Linked DNA regions of Homo sapiens: regions 1, 2 and 3 are each reported to be linked to region 4. The links are microRNA targets in miRTarBase. Many come from high-throughput screens and were not tested one by one. Region 4 holds a microRNA gene; each other region holds the end of a gene's coding sequence.
What was found. Region 4 holds the annotated microRNA hsa-miR-4433a-3p (ACAGGAGUGGGGGUGGGACAU, at 3,844-3,864, opposite strand). A microRNA usually pairs through its seed, bases 2 to 8, with sites in the 3' UTR of a target mRNA and lowers its output. Matches are read on the target gene's strand: a 7mer-m8 pairs with bases 2 to 8, a 7mer-A1 pairs with bases 2 to 7 and ends in A, and an 8mer does both.

Region 1: the mRNA of SUN2 is a reported target of hsa-miR-4433a-3p. Seed matches in the 3' UTR shown: 7mer-A1 at 7,084-7,090, 7mer-A1 at 6,510-6,516 and 7mer-m8 at 6,349-6,355.
Region 2: miRTarBase lists ACOX1 as a target of hsa-miR-4433a-3p. Seed matches in the 3' UTR shown: 7mer-A1 at 1,497-1,503, 7mer-m8 at 1,392-1,398, 7mer-m8 at 834-840 and 7mer-A1 at 489-495.
Region 3: miRTarBase lists LUC7L as a target of hsa-miR-4433a-3p. Seed matches in the 3' UTR shown: 7mer-A1 at 4,811-4,817.

What each region holds. Positions count from the first base shown.
Region 1 is chr22:38,729,029-38,736,487 of GRCh38, forward strand. It overlaps SUN2 (Sad1 and UNC84 domain containing 2), which reads right to left. Exons shown (of 18, transcript NM_015374.3): 18 at 5,706-7,352. The coding sequence ends at 7,239. It overlaps GTPBP1 (GTP binding protein 1), which reads left to right. Exons shown (of 12, transcript NM_004286.5): 11 at 434-634; 12 at 1,584-4,559. The coding sequence ends at 1,676. Among named protein-coding and RNA genes, the nearest start is that of SUN2, 23 kb to the right of the region's middle. RefSeq lists an enhancer at 3,119-3,168.
Region 2 is chr17:75,942,629-75,947,016 of GRCh38, forward strand. It overlaps ACOX1 (acyl-CoA oxidase 1), which reads right to left. Exons shown (of 14, transcript NM_004035.7): 14 at 1-4,167. The coding sequence ends at 4,120. Among named protein-coding and RNA genes, the nearest start is that of FBF1, 3.8 kb to the left of the region's middle.
Region 3 is chr16:184,180-191,689 of GRCh38, forward strand. LUC7L (LUC7 like) reads right to left here. Exons shown (of 10, transcript NM_201412.3): 8 at 6,362-6,391; 9 at 5,789-5,956; 10 at 4,811-5,160. The coding sequence ends at 5,019. Among named protein-coding and RNA genes, the nearest start is that of HBQ1, 7.5 kb to the left of the region's middle.
Region 4 is chr2:64,337,163-64,344,672 of GRCh38, reverse strand. MIR4433A (microRNA 4433a) reads right to left here and starts at 3,914; the gene lies at 3,834-3,914. It overlaps MIR4433B (microRNA 4433b), which reads left to right and starts at 3,825; the gene lies at 3,825-3,926. LOC105374768 (a long non-coding RNA gene) reads left to right here and starts at 2,964. Exons shown (of 3, transcript NR_189739.1): 1 at 2,964-3,138; 2 at 6,316-6,616; 3 at 6,766-7,510.

The sequences.
Region 1 (7,459 bases), not on the chromosome of region 4:
GCTGCAGCATGCTCTGAGGAGTCTCCACCAGCTTAGCAATCAGGAGATCCCGGAGCTCCACTTGCCAGGCTCTGTGCAGGCTCTGGGCTCTGGGGGCTGGACTGAGCGGGAGGTGGGAGCAAGGTTCACCAATTTCTCTGCAGGAATAGTAGCTGCAGCAGAGAACAGGATGGAGCCTTTCTGGGCTGGGCAGAGGCAGGAAGTGAGGCATGAGTCCAGGGCCATAGCAGTCCTCAGCCACTGAGTGGGGATGAGAATGCCTCTTCATCCCCACTGCCTCCTGTCACAGCCTTCCTGCCATCTGCCTTGCCCTGAACTGGCAAGATCAAGGAATGAGGAGTCTGTGGGAGAAGGGGGCTGAGGGTGGGGGGTAGCCAAGCCAGTGCCACTGCCCCGCAGCTCCAGCCTCAGCCTCTCTCCATGGCTCCCACAGCTCCTCCAGACCACCAACAACTCCCCAATGAACTCCAAGCCGCAGCAGATTAAAATGCAGTCGACGAAAAAGGGCCCCCTGACGAAACGAGACGAGGGGGGCCCGTCTGGTGGGCCAGCAGTAGGAGCACCCCCACCTGGAGATGAAGCCTCCTCTGTAGGGGCAGGGCAACCAGCTGCGTCCAGCAATCTCCAGCCTCAGGTGAGCACGGGCCCCTCGCAGCTTCGGCATGGTGGTGGGGGCTGTGGCTTTTACTCTGATTCGGTGAGGGTGACATGTAGGCAAGCCTCAAACCTGGCTAGAGGGTCTCCTCCACAGCTCTGGCACTGAAGTGCTCCTAAGAATGAGGCATTTGTCTCTAGAAGCTATAAGGCAGTGCTTCCAAATCAGGGAATACAGCCCACCTGAAACCAGTTTAATTGGCCCTAACTAGCATTTGGTTTTAATGAAATAAAATAGAACAGAAAAATGTCGAAGCTTCCCTTTCATAGTAAGATTAAGTATTGCAAGTATTGCTGGTGTGAGTGTCCAAGTGATATATGTGTGCACTGCAGTCCAGCAGGTTTGAGAGACACTGCCTTAGAGGGTCCTCCTCTGTCCCCTCCCTGACGTGCACACATCCTGAAGGGGAGGTGGCTTTGGGATGTGCCAGTGCGCCTCTTACTCGGCATCTCCTGCCAGCTGTCTCCCACAGGCACTCTCTCCTGGCGTGATGAAGGCCTGGTGCCCCTTGCACCCCTCTCCCCAGCATCTTTCTCCATTGTCCCCTCATTGGAAAAGGAGGCTATGCCTGGATCTGTCTGTCCATTCTGTTATCTGTCTCCCATGGGTCTTTCCTCTGGTTCGTTCGCTTCCTTTCTCTCTCTCCTGCTCTGCTTTGTGCTTCTCTGAACGGCCGCTTCTCACACCCTCATCATGTGTGTCCTACCCACCCTGTAAGGAAGGCAGGGCAGGCACTGGCTCCATTTTAGAGACAGAGGGGAGGTGCTGCATGCAGAGTGACCCAGTAAATTCCTGGTCAGGCTAGGGTGAGGACCACGCAGCCTGCTCACGCATCTTCCGTCCCTGTCTCCCCGCTGCTCAGCACCTCTGCTCTCTGGCCCTGCTCCTGATGGGCCAGTGCTTCTCAAGCTCCTTCTCTCTCTTTCAGCCTAAGCCCAGCAGTGGAGGCCGGCGACGAGGGGGCCAGCGCCACAAGGTGAAGTCCCAGGGGGCCTGTGTGACTCCTGCCAGCGGCTGCTGAACCTTCCCCTGGCCCACCCTCACCACCCAAGGGGTCATCATCTCTGGCCACCACTCCACCAGATGGGCAGAGCAGCTATGACCGCCACCCAGCCCTCCCGCTCAGGCCACAGCCGGAGCCTCCGCATTGCCCCCACCCCCATTTTCCAGGGGGGTTGTAATTTATAAGCTGACGAAGGTAGCCAGACTTCCGGAGGACTGACCATCTCTCACTGTCCTCCCCACCTTCTTCCTCACTCACACATTTTTTGTACATCTGGGCCCTTAGTTTTTATTCTGTTTATTATATGTCTCTGTCTCTCTCTATTGTGTGTGTGTGTGTGTGTGTGTGTGTGTGTGTGTGTGTGGTGCAGGAGTGCCACCCCCAGGGCCCTGTCAACCTCTCTTTTCTCCTCCATGGCTGTCTGCCTGCGTATCTGTCTCTGAGAATCCTCGGGGCGGTCAGGGGATGTCAGGAGGGGAAGGAGCCGCCCTCCCTATCTTGCTGCTCCTCTTGGCACTCAGGGGCACCTTCCATGGAGCCAGACCGGGTGGAGGGGCTTCTGGGATTTGGTGTCTGCTGCTGCCAGAGCAGGAACCCCCAGTCTAGGACTTGGGCATTTTAACAGGGAGAAAGTAGTGGCTTCCCTTTTCTCTCTCTCCTCCTTTTTCCCTTTAAGCCCACAGATTCAGGTCATGCCAAAAGCTCTCTGGTTGTAACCTGGAGACATGTGGAGGGGAATGGCGATGGGATTATAGGACTCTCCCCATCTCGGGCCCTGACCCTGACCCTTGCCACCAACCCAAAGACAGCTGGTGGGTTTCCCCTTGGAGACAATCCTGCGTTTGCCTGGGCCGGCCCTGGCTGCCCTCAGCTTTCGCTGATCTGCCCGGCCTGGAGCCTCCCATCACCCCGCTTCTTGTTGGGCCTCAGGCACTGGTTACCAGAAGGGGGTCTGGGTCTGCTCAGGATCATGTTTTGTAGCACCTCCTGTTGGAGGGGTGGAGGGATGTTCCCCTGAGCCAGGCTGAGACTAGAACCCCATCTTCCCTGAGCCAGGCTGAGACTAGAACCCCATCTTCCCCACCACGCCACCCCTGTGGCTGCTACAGGAGCACAGTAGTGAAGGCCTGAGCTCCAGGTTTGAAAGACCCAACTGGAGCGTGGGGCGGGCAGGCAGGGGTTAGTGAAAGGACACTTCCAGGGTTAGGACAGAGCATTTAGCCTTCTGGAAGAACCCCTGCCTGGGGTGGGACTGTGCAGGCCAGAGAAGGTGGCATGGGCCTGAACCCACCTGGACTGACTTCTGCACTGAAGCCACAGATGGAGGGTAGGCTGGTGGGTGGGGGTGGTTCGTTCTCTAGCCGGGGCAGACACCCAGCTGGCTGGGTCCTTCCTCAGCCTTGCCTCCTCCTGTCCCCAACCCTTTCCTTTCCTCCTGCTTGCGGACTGCTGGTCCCCTCTCCTTCCCTCCTTCCAGCTGTTTCTAGTTACCACCTACCCCTGGCCGTGGACTGATCAGACCAGCATTCAAAATAAAAGTTTGTTCCAAGTTGACAGTGTGGTGCTCCCTGCCCAGCCCCTCCAGGTGGAGGTGCTGCCACGGGAACGCAGTTGCTCTGCCTGCCCTGGGGCCCCTGGCGACAGCTGGGAGCAGGGCAGTGCTGTGAGGAGCCCAGCTTTCCCAGTCAGGCAGGCATGGCTTCCGTGTTCAGGCTCCCTCACCAGCTGGTGACACGGGACAAGCTTACAAACCTTCTCTGAACCTCAGTTTTCTCATTTACAAGAGGCAAAGCCATCCATCACCTTGTGTGGATTCAGAGAATGTGAGGCCCTGGGGTGTCCTACACAAGGGAAAGGCTTGCTCAGTGAGCGGTCTGCACACCGTTAGCCACCCTGCCACCTCTGTGCCCTGGGCAGGCTCCAAAGGAAAGCTCTGGCTGGGACTGCCAGGAGTCTCACACGCTCCTGTTGACATTCCCAGCAGCCGCCCCTGAGGTCGATGTTTGTTCTGTTTTTCTTTTTCTTTTTTGAGACGGAGTCTCGCTGTGTTGCCAGGCTGGAGTGCAGTGGTGTGATCTCTGCTCACTGCAACCTCCGCCTGCCAGTTTCAAGTGATTCTCTGCCTCAGCCTTCTGAGTAGCTGGGACTACAGGTGCACGCCACCACGCCCAGCTAACTTTTTGTATTTTAGTAGAGACAGGGTTTCGCCATGTCGGCCAGGGTGGTCTTGATCTCCTGACCTCATGATCCACCCGCCTCAGCCTCCCAAAGTGCTGGGATTACAGGTATGAGCCACCGCACCGGGCCTGTTCTATTTTTCTAGTTAAGGGAACTGAAGCTCAGAGAGGTGTCACCAGCAGGTGTTCATTCCCATGCCAGCCTTGCCCCCCGGCTTTTCCCAGGCAGGCTCCTGCGTGCCCACTGGCTCCAGCCTGGTCCTCTGTCTCTTGGCTGCTTCACTCCTGCTCTTTGTCCCGACTCTGGCCCTGCTTACAGGGGCCACTACCTGCTGGTGCCTCCATAACAAGCGTCTGGCGTTGAGACCCCTGGCATGGCAGGGGCTTTGGGGTCTGGTTTCCACAAGGCTTAGCCATGGCAGAACCTCGTTTTATTTTAACTCTTTGCCCCTACAAACAAACAGCAGTACTTGCCAGAACCATTCTTGGGATTCAGGAGCTCGGGCGACTGCCTTGGCCTCTGGCCGCACCCAGGAGGGTGGGGTTGGATCTGTGTAGTTGCCAGGCCCACACCTGCCAGCAGGGGGCTGACTGGATCCATGCTTTACTGTGTTTAATGGGGGTAACAGGGGTCCCTACAGCCCTCCCAGCTAAACATTTGGAACAAAACACCAGCCCTTTTGTAGTGGATGCAGAATAAAATTGTTAATCCAATCACCTCCAATGGCAAGGCCTGACCCTTCTGTGTGTGCAGCAGGTGTTTGTGGCGTCTTTCCCAGGAGTAAGGCCTGTGATGGTGGGATGGGGATGGCCAGACCCCTGACTCCACAGTCAGGACTGTTCTGGCTTATCAGCCACCCTGGCACAGAGAAGGTCACAGGGATGAATATGCCACGCACAGGGGCAGCACAGGTTTAGTTGGGTTGGGGGAAGTACCATGGAGCCGGCAGTGTGAGGGCTGTGCTGTGAGGGCCCAGTAGGATTTGAATGTACAGATGGGCAGAGGGCATGTGCCCAGCCCAGGCTCTGGACTCTTGCCACAGTGTGTGGCAACTTCCAGGGGCTTGTTTATTGGTGCTGCGTGGGGATGTCTCCTTTGTTTAGATGGCGTCAGAGGCAGAGCAGGTGTCAGTGAAGGGGAGTGAGCACAGGACCAGCTGTCTCCCAAGAGGCTGAGGAGCTGGCCCAAGGCTTTGGGGGCTGGATTTGTGCCTCACCCAGCTCCTGCCTTGTGGCTGTCTCCACAGTCCTCCCTACTGACTGGCTTTCTGCCTTTGTTTTCTCAGCCATGATGAGGAGCAGCCCTGGGCCAGGTGCCACGGTCAGTATGAGAGGCTCCAGGATCAGGCTAGAGAACCACGCGAACCAGGTCTGGGGAGCTATCTGTGGGAAAGGTCAGGGCCTGTTTTTCTCCTAAGCTGCTGGCTGTTCAAGGGACCTACCTCCTTGTCCCTTCCCAGTCACAGGTCCAAGGGGCAAATAGCGAATTCCCATGGAGGAGAATCACTGCACTCCAAGTGGACGTGGCTGGTAGGTAAGTGTAACTTTTTCTGCTGCTGTTCAGTGGTACTGAGAGACAGGAAAGCCCCACTGCTCCCGCCCCACCCTTTGTGATGGGTTATCAATGACAGCTAATAAAGCCACCTCACTGCTTCCTCATGCCAGCCCTTGACCCACAAACACTGGAGGAGACCTGCCTCAGGTCCCATCCCCCACCACAACTGGGCTTTAGCTGAAAGTTGTGGGTTTCTGAACTTCAGGAATAAGTCTTTGGGGACATTCGTTTGGCCAAGAATTCATTCCCTCATCTGCCCAAGAGCAGCTGCCCTAGGTGATAGGCAAAAGCCACATGAAAGCCACATCCCACAGCTCTTGGGCGTCATTTATTTTTTGCATAGGCATAAATTAGGATCTGGAGATAAAAAACTTAAGAACCAATAGTGCAGCATTTGTGACAGGAGAGCGCAAAACAAACCCTGGCTGCCTCGGGATGGAGCGGGGCGGCCTCACCACCACTGCATCCAGCCTCATGCTCCAGAGCGGATTTGAGGCTCAGTGCTGCAGTGAAGGCCTGCCCGCCTTCTTGCCCCTTCCCCGCAGCCAGACCACCAGACACAGCCGGAACCAGTGCCCCAGGCCCCTCTCCACGGCCAGGAACAAGAAACTGAGTATCACCCAGTGCCCCACAGAACGGGGCTAGGAATCAAGCCCTTAGCTTTTCAGTTAGAAAAACAGACCTTGAAAAATATATACATAATACAGTGGGGCCTGCTGGCTCTAAAAGTCCCCTCCTCCCCCTTCCCTATCCAGGGTAACTTCTGCCAGCCTCTTCCCCCAGCCCCCACCAACTGCCCCACAGAGAACAAACCAGAAGGGCGACTACCTGAACAAGAGCTGCAAGAGCCCAAGGGGGCAGCCTGAGCGGACGACCCCTACATCAGGGCCTGGTTAGATGTGGGGGCCGGTGCAGACAGACCTCGCACCCCGATACCCTGAACGTCCCCACAAGAGCCCAGGAGTTCCATGCTCCCCACTCTTCTTGCTATAACCCCAGATGCTAATGGCCCCAAAGACAGGTCTAGGTCTCCATACCCTGGGAGAATGTGGAAAGCAAGCTCAGGGGCACTGGCAGGCCCTAGCAGGAACAGGGAGCAGGGTGGGCCCCAACCTAGCATCAGGAGAGAGAAAAGCAACTACCGTCCCCAGCAGAGGGGAAGCCTACAGGGTTGGCCCTGGGCCCCTTAGAAGATCACAGCAGCCAGTCCCCTTTAGGGCACAAGAAGCCCCATGGCCCACTGCTACCCTCCCCGGGACAAATACACACTTTTGTCGAAGGCCCTCAGGGACCCTGTGGTTCATGCTTCCCTAGGTGGAGGGCACTAACCTTGTAGGAGAGCTGGGCAGCTCTCCATCAAGTGCTTCCTGCCTGGGGAAGTCCCATCCTGCTCTGGAGCTAAGCACCCTCCTCCCAGAGGGCCTCGCTTCCTTGCCCAGGGGCAGAGGCAGCTCACCTAGCCCAGGCCGTAGCTTGCCCCTCCCACAGCCCTGGCACCTGCTTCATCAGCTCCCAGGCACCAGCCCCTGACCCCAGCCAAGACCAGTCAGGTCCTACCTCTCCCAACTTCCCAGTCCCCCATGATATGCTACATATATACACACTCCCAGGATGGGAAGCAGACGCCACGGGCACAGAGGGAAGGAAGAAGGGAGCTGCTGGAGCCTGCTAACCGCCTCGAGCCACCTGCTGCTCAGGAGACCCTGCCCGTCCTTTTCATCTGCATGGGGCCACAGGCTCCTCTCTTGTGCTCCTAGAAGTCAGAGCGCCGAGCAAGCGTGTGGGGGAAGCGGCGGGGTGCTGTTCACCCACTCCCAGATGGCTGGCAGCAGGCACCAGTAAGCAGGGCTAGTGGGCGGGCTCCCCATGCACTCTGAAGCGGTAGATGCAGGTGTACTCGGGGTGGCCCCAGTTAGTCAGGATCCGCAGCTCCACCACCTGGTACGTGGCCATCGTAGGGGCCTGGGTAGAGAAGAAAGGGATTAAGAGCATCAGAGACCTGTGAGGCCTCACTGACAGAGAAGGTGGGAAGGGGAGACAGCCTCGCCTAGGGCCAGATGGCTCCCCTG
Region 2 (4,388 bases), not on the chromosome of region 4:
TCTCAGGTCATCAGTTTCCTGGCACTCCTCCTCTCTCTAGCTGTAGTAGCAGCTACTGCTTGAAGACAACCTATATATCCCAGGCATACCCTCTACACGTATAAAAAGATGTGCAGGTGTTACAGACCACCTACACCTAATTCACTTCCTTTCTAATAAGATGGATGGAATAACTCGGAAAAGGGAAAGGAGGGATTTTGAGCCGCAGTTGTCTAAAGAATTATTGATTCACAGGGATCTCCAAGATCATGCATTTGAAGAGTTTTATTTCTCCACCCAAAGCCCTGCAGTGAAGAAAATCCAAGAATTAAGATGTAACATGTTGGCTGGGTGAGGTGGCTTGTGGCTTATGCCTGTAATCCCAGCACTTTGGGAAGTGTGGGGGGAGTGGGAGTGCAGATCACCTGGCCAACATGGTGAAACTCCATCTCTGCTCAAAATACAAAAATTAGCCGAGCGTGATGGCAGGTGCCTGTAATCCCAGCTACTCAGGAGGCTGAGGTGGGAGAATCGCTCGAACCCGGGAGGTGAAGATTGCAGTGAAGTCGAGATCGCACCATTGCATTCCCGCCTGGGAGACTCCATCTCAAAAAAAAAAAAAAAAAAATTAACATGTTGGCCCAGTGCAGTAGCTCACTCCTGTAATCCCAACCCTTTGGGAGGCCTGAGGTGGGAGGGTCACCTGAGGCTAGGAGTTCATGACGGGCCCAAGGCAACATAGCCATACCCTATTTCCAAAAATAAAAAAAAATAAAAAATTAGCCAGGTGTGGTGGTGTGCACCAGTAATCCCAGCTTCTCAGAGGAGGCCAAAGCAGGAGGATCACTTGAGCCCAGGAGTTGGTGGCCAAAGTGTGCTACAATCACACCACTGCATTCCAGCCTGGGTGAGAGTGAGACCCTCATGGGGTGGAAAAAAAAGATCTAACATGTTAACTTTAGGAACTATAAAATGCCTTCAGGTGTATGTGATCTGAAATTACAAGTGGTGACTTCTCAGAAAGCATATGAACACGGTGAATGTTGTAATGTTCTGAAGATAAGCTGATACTTAGTAGTGATATGTTCTAAAGACAAGAACATGAGGGCCCCAAAGCCTGTGTCATCAACTCTGCTTTGAGGTCACTAATTTTTAAATACAGAGCATAAAGTAGAACTCCAAACACTTGGGCAAGAAGAAAATCCATTGCAAATAGCCAACACATTTCTATTAAACCTCACATTTTCAATTTTGTATTTGGTTGAGAGTACTTTTTAAAAAAAGGCTTAAATCAATATTATCTAACACACACAAAAAATCTCATTAATTCTCCTCACTCTGGGCCAGATGCTGTGGCTCACACCTATAATCTCAGCACTTTGGGAGGCTGAGGCGAAATGATCGCTTGAGCCCAGGAGTCTGAGACCAGCCTGGGCAACATGGCAAAACCCCGTCTCTACAGAAAAAATAGAACAAATTAGCTGGGCATGGTGGCACGTGCCTGTCGTCCCAGCTACTCAGGAGACTGAGGAGGGAGGACCATTTGAACCCGGGAGGCAGAGGTCACAGTAAGCCAAGATCCCACCACTGCACTCCAGTCTGGGTGACAGTGATACCCTGTCTCAAAAAGATAAAAATAAAATTCCTACTCAGTAATTTTGGAGAAGACAAGGTTAAAATGTATCTTTGTACTTGTGAAAATGGCTTACAAAATTTTGAATCCAACAGACCCAAACTTGTCAGTGGCAGTCTAGTGTGGTAGAGAGAACAAACTGGACTTGCCACTTCCTTTAAGGTACAGCCAACAAATGTGTACCAAGTACTTCCAAGGACTCCTAAAGTGACTGGAGCCACTCACAACTATTGGTACAACTGCAGTAATTACAGCTGATTTACAGCTGTCCACTCAGGCAGGTATCACTCCTTCCTTTTTTGTTCTTAGTGTTCCCTAAATCTAATAAACCTCTATTCTAAATTTCTTCATAATTTAAACCTATGTTTAGTTGTGTGGCATATTTTTTCTCTCTTAATAGTACAAATCAGTGACGTTTACTCTATCTTTATTCTTGATTATATTGAATAAAGTTCAAGACAGAACATTCCAATATTAATAAAAATAGCATCAAATGTCAGATTTAGATTTTTTTTTTGAGACGGAGTCTCGCTCAGCCACCCAGGCTGCAGTGTAGTGGCACCATCTTGGCTCACTGCAACCTCTACCCGCCAAGTTCAAGCGATTATCCTGCCTCAGCCTCCCGAGTAGCTGGGACTACAGGCGCGTGCTACCACCATGCCCAGCTAATTTTTGTATTTTTTTCAGTAGAGACGGGGTTTCACCATGTTGGCCAGGATGGTCTCAAACTCCTGACCTCAGGTGATCCACCCGCTTCGGCCTCCCAAAGTGCTTGGATTACAGGCGTGAGCCACCACGCCTGGCCCCAGATTTAGATTTTAAATAAAACGTGAGGTACTGGGTCAAAGGGGGCTCTGCAGGTCGATGATCTCCTCAAACCTGCAAAGACATCCCATCTATGCAACTGGATTGGGGGGTGTCATTCCAAACACCCTCAGATCCTGCCCAGATATTCATCTGTGAACAAGGTATTTCAACACTAATTTTGAAACAATTCTACATCTAGCAGGTCAGTTTATCATTTTCCAGAATCTGAACTACTGTCAGGATAGACTCAAGTGAGATTAACACAGGGTTAATCTTCAATCTTAACACAATTATCAATTAGTTCTCCCAGTGGAACGATTAAGGCTTTTGTCAACATGTAGCATTTCTGCTGTAACCTATAAGTCTCATATTACCAGTTCCCCAGGATAGATAGATATTATGTCAGGTCCCAAGATAGGAGTTATGTTTCCATGGAATTAAGCCATATTCTCAGGACTGATTCTAGAACAGCTGGTTTCATGAGGCATATGGCGTAGATTAAAAAAAAACAAAACAAAGTGACTTACATTGACTTTAAGAAAAAATTAATTAAGATGTATTTAACCTTTAAGTATAGAATGATTGTATAAATTAGATTTCAACTGAAAGGACAATTAGCGATTCAGAGAAAGCTCCTAGAAATAGACTGAAAACAAAGCCATACATAGAGTAAGAAATAGAACCTATGGAACTTCCATTTTTCTAACTATAGTTTTTTGTTTTTGTTTTTTCCCAGTTGTTAAAAAAAAAACAACTCACAGTTTCAATATTTTCTGAACCAAAAATCAGAACACATGGTTTGTGTCAAAGGGTTTTTCTGTGCTACGTCTGGGAGTGCTGACCTAAGTGACATTTTTTTTTAATGCCAAATACAGTAATCTCCAAGCTTTTAATGGCTTATGCCAAGATGACAGAATATGTGAAATCTGATTGTCCCAGAGTTACACTCTGCACTCCAAAGCTACAACAGTGCCACAGCTGAGAGGTTTCCCTATACTTCCTACTACTGTGACAATTTAGCAATCCTTCAAATGGAAAATTCCTAATTACACGAGACAATGGTCCTACAGTAGGCCCGTGCGGAATAAGTTCCCTCGTTGGAAAAATGCTAGCATGAATAGTTTGATAAATGCAATCCATCAGCAAAGGAGAGCAAGCAGGCAGAGACTGTGCCAAGCAGAAACTCATTCGCATCAAGTTTTCCAATAAGTTTCCTTCCCCCAGTCCCTTTTCTTCAATCCTGCTTTTAAGCCAGGCCCCAGGGTAAGTCTGGTAGAACACTGAGCAGGAAAGCTTGGAAGGGTTCTACACCACTTCAAAAATACCTTTGCTTAAAAACACTTATATAGCCAGTGATTAGCAATTAAAATGTGAAAATAATCAACTACTCAGTAGTTAAATTCTGCTAATTATCAAAAGTCATAGTCTACTGGGATCAGCAGCATTACAAAAGGAAGTCATATCGCATTTCTTAAGCTTTTTCTGAATGGTTTAACAGGTCTCTTTCAGTGTTAATTGCACTTAAAACATCTGCTTTTTTTCATTTAATCTCTGAAATCTGTTCATTTTTTCCCTCCATTTATAAAAAGGGGTCAATTTATCATTTGCTCTATAGCTATTTGAATTCGAAAAAGATTCCACAAAATTTGAGTTGCACACAGGCGCTTTCTGAAGCAGATTAAACTTGTCCTTGTGACACTTCAGAGCTTGGACTGCAGTGACTTCAGGTGCTTGTAAGATTCGTGGACCTGTGGGGAAAGGAGAGAGAAGAACTACTAATAAAGAGTTTGCCATGTTAAATAGTATACTGTTTTTTGTTTTTGTTTTTGTTTTTTTTTTGAGACTGAGTCCTGCTCTGTTGCTCAGGCTGGAGTGCAGTGGCACAATCTTGGCTCACTACAGCCTCTGCCTCCCAGACTCCAGCGATCTTCCCACCTTAGCCTCCCGAGTTGCTAGAACTACAGGTGTG
Region 3 (7,510 bases), not on the chromosome of region 4:
TCCGTCTCAAAAAAAAAAAAAAAAAAGTTCCATCCTGGCCAACGTGGTTCTGGCTCCAGGCTGCCACCCCTCCCCCAAAGGATGCCACCCCAGATAGGGGTCCTCGGCCTGCTCCAGCACCTGCCTGTCCCATGACGGCTGCACACTGGGGTAGGAAACGGCCTCCGCATCCTCCTCTCCTCCCCCCAGGACTACCCTTAACCCACTCAGGGCTTCGGTCAAGGCCCATGCGCTCCCCAAGCCCAAGGTAACCCTGTGCAGGAGGCAAAGGTGGTACAAGGCACAGCCCATCCAGCTAGTTTGGCGCCGACAGCACCCACCAAACAGAGCCATTTACCTTTAAAAAAATCACTGCCAGCTGTGGTGACACACCTGTAATCCTAGTGCTTTGAGAGGCTGAGGTGGGAAGACTGCTTGAGCCCAGGAGTTCCCAAGAATATCCTGAGCAACATAGTGAGACCTGTCTCCACAAAAACATAAAAAATTAGCCAAGTGTGGTAGTGCACACCTATGTCCCAGTTACTTGGAGGCTGGGGCAGGAGGATCACTTAAGTCCAGGAGTTCAAGGCTGCAGTAAGCCATGACTACAACACTGCACTCCAGCATGGGTGACAAAGCAAGCATCGTCTCAAAAAAAATAAATAAATAATTTTGGCCAGGTGCCGTGGCTTACGCCTGTGATCCCAGCACTTTGGGAGGTCAAGGCGGGTGGATCACGAGGTCAGGAGTCCAAGACCAGCCTGGCCAAGATGGTGAAACGTTGTCTCTACTAAAAATACAACAATTAGCCGGGCATGGTGGCGGGCCCCTGTATTCCCAGCTAGTCGGGAGGCTGAGGCAGAGGGTGCAGTGAGCCGAGACTGCATCACCGCGCTCTAGCCTAGGAGACAGAGCGAGACTCCGTCTCAAAAAAAAAAAAAAAAAGTTTTTTTTTAATCGCCAAATGTTCTGGAGAGGCCCCCTTCTCTTCTGTTCTCCTGCAGTCTGGGCTGCAGGCCAAGGTGGTCCCTGTGGGTGGAGACAAGGGCCGGTTCCACCTGACACTACAGACCCCTTCACATGGGAGGGATACACTTCCAGACCCATATATCTCCGAGTAGCCATCTTTGGCGAGATTTACTGGTACTGCAGTGGAAAGGAAGGACTCGCTGTACTGGGTGAAAAAAGTGAAAACATGGGACTCCTATCGCAGACTCTGACAGCAGAACCTGGTGTGGGTTATTTGGGAGGAGGGAGGGAGGAGGGAGAAAGGAAGAGCTGTTGTGGGTGCTATCAGCGAAACTGCACCGGGGGCATGAAGCTCAGTTTGGTCAGCACCACCTGGCAGGTGTACCAAAAGCCCACCCGACTGTCCCTGCACGGTAGAGAGGCAGGAGCGCCTCTCCCTGCACGGATGGTGCCCCGGAGGCTACCAGGGGCGGCCGAGGACACTGATGCTGCATCCCAGGAGGACCTGTCCTTCAGCTGTAATCAGCAGACACGGGGGACAGGATGGCCAGGGGCACAGCACCTTTTCTGTAAACCCCACACCCTGACCCCCCCCACCCAAAAAAGCAAAAAACAACTATTTGTCTACACATACAATTTTATGCCCAGATGGAAAAAGATCCAAATGATTCACAGTGGTGATGGCTCTGAGGGTGACGCTGTCTGCTTAAGGCCCAGGGAAACCCAGGTGCAAACTCACACTCATCACCCAGGCAGCCACAGCCATGAACACAACGTGGGCTTGGGAACAGGGAGCCCAGACCCAACCACTCCCTCCTAGAAGACGAAGAGGAAAGCACATGTGCTGAACAAGTACCCTGAGTCCCACCTGCAGGAAAAGGTGCAGGTAAGGAATACGGACACGGGAGGAATACGGACACGGAGGGAACAGCGACACGGGGGGAACAGCGACACGGGGGGAACAGCGACACGGGGGGAACAGCGACACGGGGGGAACAGCGACACGGGGGGAACAGCGACACGGGGGGAACAGCGACACGGGGGGAACAGCGACACGGGGGGAACAGCGACACGGGGGGAACAGCGACACGGGGGGAACAGCGACACGGGGGGAACAGCGACACGGGGGGAACAGCGACACGGGGGGAACAGCGACACGGGGGGAACAGCGACACGGGGGGAACAGCGACACGGGGGGAACAGCGACACGGGGGGAACAGCGACACGGGGGGAACAGCGACACGGGGGGAACAGCGACACGGGGGGAACAGCGACACGGGGGGAACAGCGACACGGGGGGAACAGCGACACGGGGGGAACAGCGACACGGGGGGAACAGCGACACGGGGGGAACAGCGACACGGGGGGAACAGCGACACGGGGGGAACAGCGACACGGGGGGAACAGCGACACGGGGGGAACAGCGACACGGGGGGAACAGCGACACGGGGGGAACAGCGACACGGGGGGAACAGCGACACGGGGGGAACAGCGACACGGGGGGAACAGCGACACGGGGGGAACAGCGACACGGGGGGAACAGCGACACGGGGGGAACAGCGACACGGGGGGAACAGCGACACGGGGGGAACAGCGACACGGGGGGAACAGCGACACGGGGGGAACAGCGACACGGGGGGAACAGCGACACGGGGGGAACAGCGACACGGGGGGAACAGCGACACGGGGGGAACAGCGACACGGGGGGAACAGCGACACGGGGGGAACAGCGACACGGGGGGAACAGCGACACGGGGGGAACAGCGACACGGGGGGAACAGCGACACGGGGGGAACAGCGACACGGGGGGAACAGCGACACGGGGGGAACAGCGACACGGGGGGAACAGCGACACGGGGGGAACAGCGACACGGGGGGAACAGCGACACGGGGGGAACAGCGACACGGGGGGAACAGCGACACGGGGGGAACAGCGACACGGGGGGAACAGCGACACGGGGGGAACAGCGACACGGGGGGAACAGCGACACGGGGGGAACAGCGACACGGGGGGAACAGCGACACGGGGGGAACAGCGACACGGGGGGAACAGCGACACGGGGGGAACAGCGACACGGGGGGAACAGCGACACGGGGGGAACAGCGACACGGGGGGAATACCAACACGGGAGGAACAGCAACACGCAGGGAATATCGACATGGGTGATGCCTGCAAAGCACAGCATCAATCCCAAGTGACTCCTGTACAGGGCGGCCCCTTCCACCCTCCTTTCCTTGGAGACAGTTGGCTGGGCTAGACCTGTGTCACGGGCTGGCAGAGCAGCCCACCTACCCATCTGTCCTCCTGGAGGGGACAGCCTGTGGCAGGAGAGCCCAGAGCAAGGCCACCAGCTACACTGTGATACCGGTGGCAGAAAGACCCAGACCACAGCGCCCGTGTGCGCCCACTGAGCCAGCCAGCTCAAGGGTGGCATGTGTACCCCTGCAGAAACAGAGCGGATGAGGATGGCTATGTGTTAACAATGTGAACCTCAGGAATTCCCTCCAAAAAATCTCCCACGAAGTGAAAAAGGGAAGGAGCTCCCATCATCTACACATTAGTTAGCAGTTATCCTTTTCAGAAGGGCTTCATTTTGGGTTTTTGGGGGGTTTTTTGAGACAGAGTCTTGCTGTCGTCCAGGCTGGATGCAATCTCGGTTCACTGCAACCTCTGGCTCCCGGGTTCAAACGATTCTCCTGTCTCAGCCTCCCAAGTAGCTGTGATTACAGGTGTCCGCCACCACACCCAGCTAATTTTTGTATATTGGTAGAGACAGGGTTTCACCATGTTGGCCAGGCTGGTCTCGAACTCCTGACCTCAGGTTATCTGCCTCCCAAAGTGCTGGGATTACAAGCGTGAGCCACCGCGTCCCCCTTTACTTTGGTCTTAAAGTACCTGCCTGATGTACAGCAGGTATGTTAGAAAGAACTGAAAGGTGTTGGCCAGGAGCGGTGGCTCACGCCTGTAATCCTAGCACTTTGGGAGGCCGAGGCGGGCAGATCCCGAGGTCAGGAGATCGAGACCATCCTGGCTAACAAGGTGAAACCCCGTTTCTACTAAAAATACAAAAAATTAGCCAGGCAAGGTGGCAGGCACCTGTAGTCCCAGCTACTCTGGAGGCTGAGGCAGGAGAATGGCGTGAACCTGGGAGGCGGAAGTTGCGGTGAGCTGAGATCACGCCACTGCACTCCAGCCTGGGCGACAGAGTGAGATTCCGTCTCAAAAAAAAAAAAAAAAGAACGAACTGAGAGGTGGGAAACATAATCAGCCCACATGGGACATGAGTCAAACCATTTTTTTTTTTTTTTTTTTTTTTTTTTTTTTTGAGATAGGGCTTTCTTGTCACCCAGGCTGGAGTGCAGTGGCGGAATCAAGGTTTGCCTCAGTGTCCTGTGCTCAACAGATCCTCCTGCCTCAGCCTTCTTAGTAGTAGCTGGGACTACAGGCATGTGTCACCATGCCCAGCCCCATGGGTCTTTGTTTTCTGCTAGTAACTTCAAAAGGGGACATGCAGTGTAACTCACCTGAGTCCCAAGTTAAGGCTATGGTAGCAGCTGAGCAGACAAGACAGCTTTTCCTAAATAAATGAATGCAGAATGGGGACCCCTCCCTCCTCCCCATGGGAGATGGGCAGCTCAGACACTCAGAAGGTTGTGTGGGAGCGAGCAAACAAACACCCATGCACACCTGGGTCCCGTCAGTCAGATGCAGGGGACAGGAAGTGCCCTGCCATCTACTGGATGCCAGAAGACAAGACGTGACCCACGAGTAAGTCACGGTTTCTGTGAGGTGCTGGTGGCACTGGCACAGGGTCACAGTGAAAAGCCTCTACGCAGAGGACAGCAGAAACCCCCCGCAGCCTCAGGAGGCAGCATCAGATTTATTTATTCCTACTCAACATGACCCGGGAACACAGGAGCAACTCTGTACACTTCTAGAAACTCACAGCTAGCTCCAAAACAATAGAAATTTTAAACTACAAAAGATGAGTTGTATTCAGCAAATATAAAGGGTAATTTTAGACTGTGTGAACGTTTATCAGACTATTTACAGCACCCGGGAGACGGGTTCAGATCTCGCCGGCCTCCTTCTCTTCTGACCTCCGTGAAGCCATCTTCCCGTTGGAGCTCTCAAGCCTCCAGTCCGGGGGCCCTCGCTCGCTCCGCCCGCTCTCCCAGGACTCCTCTCTGGATGCCCGCTCTCTGGAGAACCTGGGAAATGGGAACCAGAGGCTCAGTGGAGGCTGCTGCCCCCCTTCTGCTGGCCGCTCAGGCACTGACGATGGACCCGCAGACCAGGCCAGGCAAGGCCCTACATCCCCTATACCTGGAAACCCCCCGGAGGCCAACCAGACTTGCCCACCACATATGGAGTGTTAGATAGCCATTAAAAAGTGACCTTTGCGAAGATTTTTAATAAGGAGAGCCTTCACTGTAACATAAACAGTGCAAAGGAGAATACAACACTATATGCACAGAACATGACACTACGTAAAAACACAATGGAAAAAAAAATATCAAAAACAAAAACCAAAACAGAGGTAAGCAGGGCCTGGTCAGGACACAAGTCTCAGCCACTCTGAGCATGGACGCAACAGTGCACAGGCCCCAGGACGCAGGCAGGGGACAGTGCCTGTGCAGCCCATCACCTGGCGCCGTGCGAGCTCCTCCACAGCCCTCTCGCCTCTTCCCACACCTGAGTCCCGTTCACGACTCCCCAGCCCTACTCCTGAGGGTGAGCCCAGCCCCATCCCCACCAGACACGGCCCTCAGCAGACCCTGGGAACACAGAGAAGGGCTCACTCCTGGTTGCAGCTACCGAAGGAGTCAGAGTAGTTACTTGTATTTCGCACTTCGGTCCCGGGAAGCCCGACGATGTCCCCGGCTGTGGCTCCGGGAACGGCTGCGGTGGCGCCGATGTCTATCTCGGGACCGGGACCGGGACAATTTCCGTCGCTCTCGGGAGGTAGATCTTGACCGCCTCCGACGCCGATCCCGGGAGCGTGACCTGAACAATCAGAAGGCTCCAAGGCTGAGACTCTATAGGTGCCAACACTATGAGGGCCCCACCCCTCAGCAGATTCTGCTTGCTGCTTTACTGACATTTTCTCCTTTACTCCCACAAATTTAGGTTTAAAATATTTCCATCAGTTAATCTCCAATGGCTAGGTCCTTCCAATGAGGTCTCCTGAAAACATGTGGCCTGGATACTCCTGTCACCCTGCAGGCCCCGACCTTCCCTCTCATTAACACTGGGAACCCTCCACGGCACCAAGCAACCTCTTGCCCTGTGCCCTTCACAAGCCAGCCCTACCTGCCAGGTAACATTTGTAAAGGCATAATCATTAAATATTAAGAAAAATGCTTATGGAAAAAAAAATTTGAGAACATTTTAATGGACCTGGAAACCTACCTCCTGCGATCTCTGGTTCTTGATCCCGACCTAAAAGGGGGAAAAAAAGATGAACAAGGCCAGGCATGGTGGCTCACACCTGTAATCCCAGCACTTCGGGGAGGCCTAGGCAGGCAATCACCTGAGGTCACGAGCTGGAGACCAGCCTGGACAACGTGGTGAAACCCCGTCTCTACTGAGAACACAAAACCTGGCCAGGCGTGGTGGCGGGTGCCTGTAATCCCAGCTACTCAGGAGACTGAGGCAGGAAAATCACTTTAACCTAGGAGGCAGAGGTTGCAGTGAGCTGAGATTGTGCCACTGCACTCCAGCCTGGGCAACAAGAATAAAACTTTGTCTCAAAAAGAAAAAAAAAAAGTGAATGACTTCCCGAAAGCACCCCTATTCCTCACCCTCTTGGGGGAGGACTCCAAATTTAAGAAGTGAGGCACCTCCCCCAAAGACCTGCTGTTTTCAAGCTGCCTGCATGTTCCCAGTCTGAATGGGAAGTGCCAATGCTCCCATCCCCACAGCCACTCTGTGGCACACTCAGTGTCACCTGAGCCTCACAGACAGGCCCACATCCGAGCATCAGACGCAGCCCTGTAACATTACAAGGGCCGTGAAAAGTCTGTGCACACTGACTGTGCTGCACTCAAGTCCTACAAATGATTCTCCAGTCTTTACAACAGACACCAGCACAGAATGTGCAGACAGCGAGTGGGGCACACCAAAAACACAGAAAAGGAAAAGCAAAGCCCGAAGTTCCAGGCACAGGCTTCCTGTCAGGTGAGAGTCATCAGCTCATTCTGCCACACAACCAAGAGGCTGAAAAAGGCAAGCTATGAGGCCTCATTCTATGCCCGTAAGCCATTAAGGTCAAGTGGCCCCATGTACATCCGCAACACAAATGGCCTAAACATGACAGTGCATGTAAAAATGTAAACTCCATGCAAAAAATGGATTGTGTGTTTTGCTTAATATTTTCTTCTATACTGTTTAAGTTTCTCTCCAATCAGAATCTCCTGCTGGTAAAACAACAAACGGCCGGGCGTGGTGGCTCACGCTTGTAATCCCAGCACTCTGGGAGGCTGAGGCAGGCAGATCATGAGGTCAACAGATCGAGACCAGCCTGGCCAACATGGTGAAACCCTGTCTCTATTAAAAATA
Region 4 (7,510 bases):
TCATTACATCTGGCAGGTCCCATCCCTGACCCAATCTCAGCTGCCAAGAGGAATGCCACTGTGCCTTACTCCACCAAATGGAATAGAGCAGGAAAAATCCCTCAGCAGGAACAGTGGGCAGCTGTTAACATGCAAAGGAAGATGGGCAAATGAGTGAGCAAGAAAAAGGTATGGCCACCGTAGTCCTCCATATGCACCACAACAGGACATAGGCTGTGCCCTCTAGAAACTGCTATTTTGTCTGAAACCTGAAGAAGATTTAGGGTCATTCTTTTTATTCTGTTTTAAATGGGGTCTCCCTCTGTCACCCAGGCTGGAGTGCAATGGCATGATCTTGGCTTACTGCAACCTTTGCCTCCCGAGTTCAAGCAAATCTCCTGCCTCAGCCTCCTGAGTAGCTAGGACTACAGGTGCCTACCACCACACCTGGCTAATTTTTTTATTTTTTATTTTTTTAAGTAGAGGTGGGGGTTTCACCATGTTGGCCAGGCTGGTCTCAAACTCCTGACCTCAAATGATCCACCCACCTTGGCCTCCCAAAGTGCTGGGATTACAGGCATGAGCCACCATGCCCAGCTGGATCATTTTTAAACCACAAATAAGCCAGTGTAAATTGATTTCCTCTGCGCTGTAATGCTCATGAAATATGAAGAGTCTTGGTCCAGGGCATCTCCCCATAGTACCTGGGGTGTTCTGAGCACACAGGGCACTCTCCACACATAAGGTGGTGCCAACAGCTGCCGGACACAGGAGAGGCAGCCCAGGCTACTGCAGTCACATGGTAATGTCACGTGCCATAAACACATAAGAAAGCCAGGGGATGCTCCCAGGAAGTTGCAGGGTATCAGCCAGAGTCCCAGAAGGAAGATGGCATTCCCAAAGGGTTTAGCTGAAGGGATTTTAATGAGGGGATGATTTATAGAGAGGTGGGCAGATTTCACAGAACCACAAAAGATGGTGAGATACCCAGGAACCTCACCATCCTGGGACTGTGTATTCATAGGTTTGTCACCAAATTTTTGCTAAAACTCAAGGTGCATATTATTGGGGTGCTATTTGGCATAGAAAACATTTGTCCAGGAAATTTTCTAATATCATGTCAAGTTAAACATAATTCATTGCAAATAAGAGGTACAAGGCATAGTATAATAGCAAGCTAGCACAAACAAAATTTGTAGACTTGCTAAAACATGGGAGAACAGCGTAGGCCAGAATAACAGTGATTAAGAGTTCAGGCTCTGGTGCTGGAGTCCCTGGGTTCAAATCCTTACTAGCTATGGGATCATAAGTGAATTTACTCATGTGTAAAATAGAGGTAATATTACTTATCCCATAAATTGTTATGAGGATTAAAGGATTAAATGCAATATTTGTAAGATGCTTAGAACTTTACTGGCACATAAATACTAGCATTATCTACAAAATTATACTACCCTTCCTCCGTTCACTCAATAAATATATAGTCAGGAGCCACATAACAATGTTTCAGTGAATGAGGGACCACATATACAATGGTGATTTCTTAAGATTATAGTATCATATTTTTATGTATCTTTTCTATGTTTAGATGTGCTTAGATACACAAATACTACTATGTTACAATTGCCCACATTATTCAGTACAGTAACGTACTATAGGTGTTTGTAGCCTAGGAACCATAGGCTAGACCAGATAGTCTAGGTGTGTAGCAGGCTACACCATTTAGGTTTGTGTAAGTATACTCTGATGCTCTCATTACGAAACTGCCTAACAATGCATTCTTTAGTAGGTATCCCCGTTGTTAAGTCACACATGACTGTGTATTAAATATTTACTATAGGCATCATCCTAGGCTCTGGGGAAAGTGGTAAGAAAAAAAAGACTACCTTTCCTGATGGACTGGGAAGAAAACATTAACTAATAATCACACACAGAAATAAAATCAAAACCATGAGTGGTGGTGCTTGGAGCCATAAGAGCTGGTAATGACTATACAGGGGTAGGCCTTCTTGAGGAAGTGACATTTACCTATGACCTAGATGAGTTTACTAGGGAAAGTTCATTAGGTAAAGATGAGAGGGGGAAAAATACCAGGCAGAGGAAGCACTATGTCCTCTGTGGCAGAAAGGATCATGGCAGGCATATTAGTCAGGACCCAGCCAGGAAAGCAAAACCCACTCTAGGTGATTTGATAGAGGGAATTTCATACGGGGAGTCAGAGGAGTTGAAAGAGCTCCCAGGGGAACCCTGAGAGTAGCAACTCCAGGAAGCTGGGACTACTGTATTTGTTTGCTAGGGCTGCAGTAACAAAGTGCCACAGACTGGGTGGCTTCACACAGAAAGTTATTGTCTCAGAGTTCTGAAGGCTGGAAGTCCAAAATCAAGGTGTCAGAAGGGGTAGTTCCTTTTGAGGCCTATGAGGGAAGGATCTGTTCCACGCCTCTTTCCTTGACTTGTAGATGACCATTTTCACCTATGTCTCTTCACATCGTCTTCCCTCTGTGTGTGTCTATCTCTGTCCAAACTTCCCCTTTTTATAAGGACAACATTCATATTGGATTAGGGTCCACCCTAATGACCTCACTTTAATTCGGCTACTCTATAAAGACCACAACCCTAAATAAGGTCACACTCTAAAGTACTGGGGGTTAGAACTTCAACACATGAACTTGCAGGGGAGACACAATTCAACCCATAGCACCACCCTGGAAGCTGGAGAACAAGGAAAGAAACAGTTTCTGGAGCCTAAGACAAGATAAGCTGGAACAAAGAGGGCCTGCCAAGATGGGTAGCAGGGATCACACAGAGATGGCTGTGTAGTGGGAACTGCAGCCACAGAAGAGACTCCTGAGAAAGAGAAGCAGGAGAAGTACTCTGGCTTCTCCTTCCTTCACCTCCAATATCTTTTGCCCTCCCTCACTCCCCATTGGCTGAACTTTACTGGAAGGCAGTTGGCTCTGGAGCCTGGAACAGCCCCCAGTGACACAGAGCAGATCGGGGGACCACGGGATGGGAAGGGTGGACATGGCTCTGACAGCAACAATGTAACACCCATGCAACGAGTCTGCGAGGCCGAATGGAAGCCAGCTGGCTGCAGGGGAGAGAGCAAGAGAGTCTGGCAGAAGGTGCACCTGGAGAAGGAAGTAGAGGCCAGGCCAGGTAGGAGTTTGGTCTGCATGCTAAGAGCCATAGAAATATCCAAAGGTTTTTAATAGAGCTGGGGGAGAGGCGGTGATGTGATCAGAGATGTGTTTTGAAAAGACCTATCTGGCTATGAAGTGGAGAGTGGGTTGAGGATAGTGGGGCAGATCAGTTAGAAGGCTACGCCTAAGAGAAAGCCTGTTTTACAAAAAGAGGGAGCTCCTGCTGCCCCTCTCTTTCCCTGGAGTTTTCATACCCTCCACGTGTACTAGACATGTGTATCTGCCAGTCAAAGCCACCCCTCCCCTGGTGCAGAGGCCCGCTCCAAGCTCTCATTGCCCAGTGTCCTTTTTCTAGATCCTCTCCTGGTTCACTTCCTTTCTCTCTGGGCAGTCCTTCCCATGCTGCAACACTGATTCTTCTTTTGTCACCCACCTGCTGCAAGGGGGGCCCTTGTCACCCATCTCACCCATCACTCTGGCTTAATGGTGCTGACTGAGTCCACGGCTTTGGTGGCCACCCATATGTTGCTGCTGCTTCTCAGATCTGTATTTCCAGACATGATTTCTCTCGTGAGAAAAATCAGCCTGCCAGATATCTCCACTGGAATGTCCAAAGGAATTGGAATCATGAGCTCAGCATGTCTAAAACTGAACACATTATCTTCCCCTCGCACGTGGACCCCTGTAACCTGCCCTTCATCCTGTGTTCCCTATCCTCCTTATGTCCCACCCCCACTCCTGTTTGAATATTTCACCAGAAACAGGAGTGGGGGGTGGGACGTAAGGAGGATGGGGGAAAGAACATCATCCTAAACTATTCCCTCTTACTCCCCCACATCCCATTGCTGTCCAAGTCCTGTTGGCTCTGTCCTAGATATCTGTCAAAATCCACTTTTCCTGCTACTTCCCTAGCCCAGGTCCTCATTTTTATGTGGGTTCATGCAGTGGTCTCCTAGCTGGCTTCCTGCCTCAAGCCTTGCCCTGGCCGGTCCACTTTTCCTACAATCAAAGTGACATCTACCAGTGTAAATAGATCATGTCCTTTCTCTGCTTAAAATCCCTTCAGTGATTTCTTATCGTCCTCAAGTCAAGTCTGATTACTATCTCTGCACAGTGCCCAGCCCACAATAAATGATTGGTGATTAAATGAATAAATGACAAACCAATATAGAAAAATTGCTAAGTGTGGAAATGAAGAAAAGATGCCATTTTTTTTCCCCTGGAAGTCTTTCCGACTGTCCAAGACTCAATCTGGATCTATCCTTGGGTGTGTTTGTATTGTACTTCTCACACTATACTAAACCCATCTACTTACCTGTCTGTTTCCTACTGGAATGTTCCTTGGTTGCTACTATATCTCTTAGCACAGCTCCTGGAAGAAAGTAAATGCTCAAAAAATATTTGATGAATGAATGAATGATAAGGAGAGCTCTGGGCTGGGGCTGACTATGAAATGCTTATTAGGAGCAGAGTGTGTCTGTCCTGGTTCCAAAGCACTGGGGGAACCAGGATGGGTAGAGAGGCTGAAGGCAAGCCCTTTAGGGGAAGGATAGCAGTGACGAAGGCTGAAAGATCAACAGCAATACATTTTTCTCAGGAGACTTCTTTGGGGCAGTGTTTTCTAAGCTGGGTTCCAGGGACCACTGGTCTTGCGAGATGCTCTATCTAGGGTTCTATATCAAATCAGCATGTAGAAACATGCAGCCCATACCCCTTGTGTACATCAGCATCTCAAAGAGTCTGAGAAGTCCTGCAGTTGAAAAACCAACACTTTAACCCTTTTAACTCAGTATTTCCTGAACTTATTCCATAAGTTTGAATATACAAAAATAAAGTTTTTTGCTTAATACTCAGCAACACCCCCTTCCACAAGATATACTGGAATAAATAGTGTTTGGTGGTCATGAGTATTTTAGGAAAAGGGCAGGAGAAGCTTGAATTTCCCCCAGTGTGCCTTGGGTGAGCACTGTGGTTATAGCCACTTGATGAGAACAGTCAGAGGAAGGCTGCTCTGGGCCATCAAGTGCAGACTGTATAGGACAGGAGAAGGGTGGGAACAGAGACACCCCTGAAGGGGTTGTAGATTCAGGGGGAAAGGTGATGGATGGCCTGGACAAAGATTGTGGTGGAAACAAAATCAATGGGCACACGATTTTCCCTTCTTGGAAGAACCTCTGAAAGGAGAAGCCCTATTCACCCCGACTGCCTGGCTTAGGCCACACCCCTAGAAATGCAGCTACAACCAGGGCAAACCATCAACAGCATCTTCTCAGCACCCATGCGATCCCAAGTAGGCATCCGAGGACATGCAAAAGAGAAGCATGTGTCCTTTTGTGGTCAAAGTCTGTTTTCTCTCTTGGAGCAGGTATGCTTCTGATGGTGCTGCAAGCAGCAGGGGGTAAGGCTGCAAGCTGGGCTAAAAACAGCCCCACCCCCTCTAGCCACAATCAGCTGTGGGATAAAAGCCCCTAAAGACCAAGACTGTACTCATGTCTGACTCATCTCTGCTTCCAGCTCTCAGCTAAACCTGCCCAGAGGAGAGCATGGCAGACAGGAGGGCGCTTGCTCAGAAGCCTCTAGGTTAGAGGTAAACAGGACTAAGGTTAATAAAGAAATTCATAATGAGGGTATAGCAACTGTACCCCCACCCCATCACCAGATGATGACCTGGTCTGAGAGAGGAAACATGCAGGTGGGTCACATAACTCAATGTAAAGCAGGTAGCGCACCATGCCTGCATTTAAGGGCTCAGCAGGTGTTACTTATTACTATTATTTACTCCTATGCAAGTAACTGAAAAAAAATTACTTCATTTAAGATCTTTAGCAAATACTTTTGGTGTTAACTCTTTCAGGGACACTTCTTTTTTAAAAATTTATTTTTTAATATAAATGGGACAGGGTCTAGCTATGTTGCCTAGGCTGGTCTCGAACTCCTAGGCTCAAGGGGTCCTCCACCCTCAGCCTCCCAAAGTGCTGGGATTACAGGCACGAGCCACTGCATCTGGCCTGAGGGACACTGCTAACGCAGTACCTGGTGCTTTTCTGGCCCCTAAGCCCATGGGCTTAGGAAAAAATTAAGTCAGTGCCAAAGAGGACCCCAAACCCCACCATTGTTTCACAGACAGTGTTCAGTATGGCCTGTACCTCAGGGTAATCACTTCATTTTGCTCTTTTCTCTCCAATGCTCTCAGTGTGGAGGGAACTGGGAGGACCTGTCTGACCACAAACAACCCACCTGAGGAGGCCCTGCTGCTCCCGGAGGGTGCTCCTGCCAGAGTTCTCCTAGTTCCTTGCAAGGAGCCCTGGAAAAACAATCCCACCCTGGGTCTAACATAGTCTCGGGGACTTTTAAACCAATGCCCAGCTAGAAAAAACATCTCAGGCAGTTCGCGGATAGAAGAGGAAATAATATTAAGAGCCTGCCATATGTTGAATGTTTACTATGTCTCAGCAGCATATAAATGCTTTAGTTTCTTACAGAAGCCCTCCAAGGTGGGTACTCTTATTATCCCCTTTTTACTAATGAAGAAACTGAGACTTAAGGAGGTTAAATACCTGGTAAGTAGATAGAGTAGGGATCTGACCTAAGCTGTCCAACTCCAGGGCTCATGCTCTTAACACTGTTTATCCTGCTTTCCCAGGAAACTACAGAGGCCCTTTGGTGCTCCCCAGCTCTCCTTGTTTTCCTGTTTCTAAGCATCTGAGTGCATCCTGATAGCTGTGGACAGCAGAGATTTGGAACAGGAGATTGAAGAAGTCTCATCTACTGCCATGCTTGGCACATAGTAGGCACTCAACACATGCTAGACTCTCCCCACCTCCTGTTGCTTCTTGGCACCAGGCTTCACTCTGGACAAGAGTTAACATCTCATCCTTTACCCATGTCTTCTTTGACTGAACATCTCGCTATTAGTGGGAGATGGGTCAAAGAAGTATTCACTCATCCTTTCATCCAACAATACTGACAGAGCACCTGCCCTGTGCCAGGCTCAGCCAGAGGCTGGAGATAAAGACATGAATGAGACCCCTGGTGACGGGTGAGAGACAAAGCAAAGGGCTCATTTCCATAGAGGATGATGGGGATTCACATATGGGGTTGGGCAAGGCACACAATAGAGCAGGGTGATATGGTTGGCTTTGTGTCCCCACCCAAATCTCGTCTTGAATTGTAGTTACCATAATCCCCATGTGTCATAGGAGGGACCTGGTGGGAGGTAATTGAATCATGGAAATGGTTTCCACCATGCTGTTCTTGTGATAGTGAGTGAGTTCTCATGAGAGCTGATGGTTTTATAAGGGGCTTTTCCCCTCTTCACATTGGACTACTCTCTCCTGCTGCCACGTGAAGAAGGCCATGTTTGCTTCCCCTTCTGCCATGACTATAAG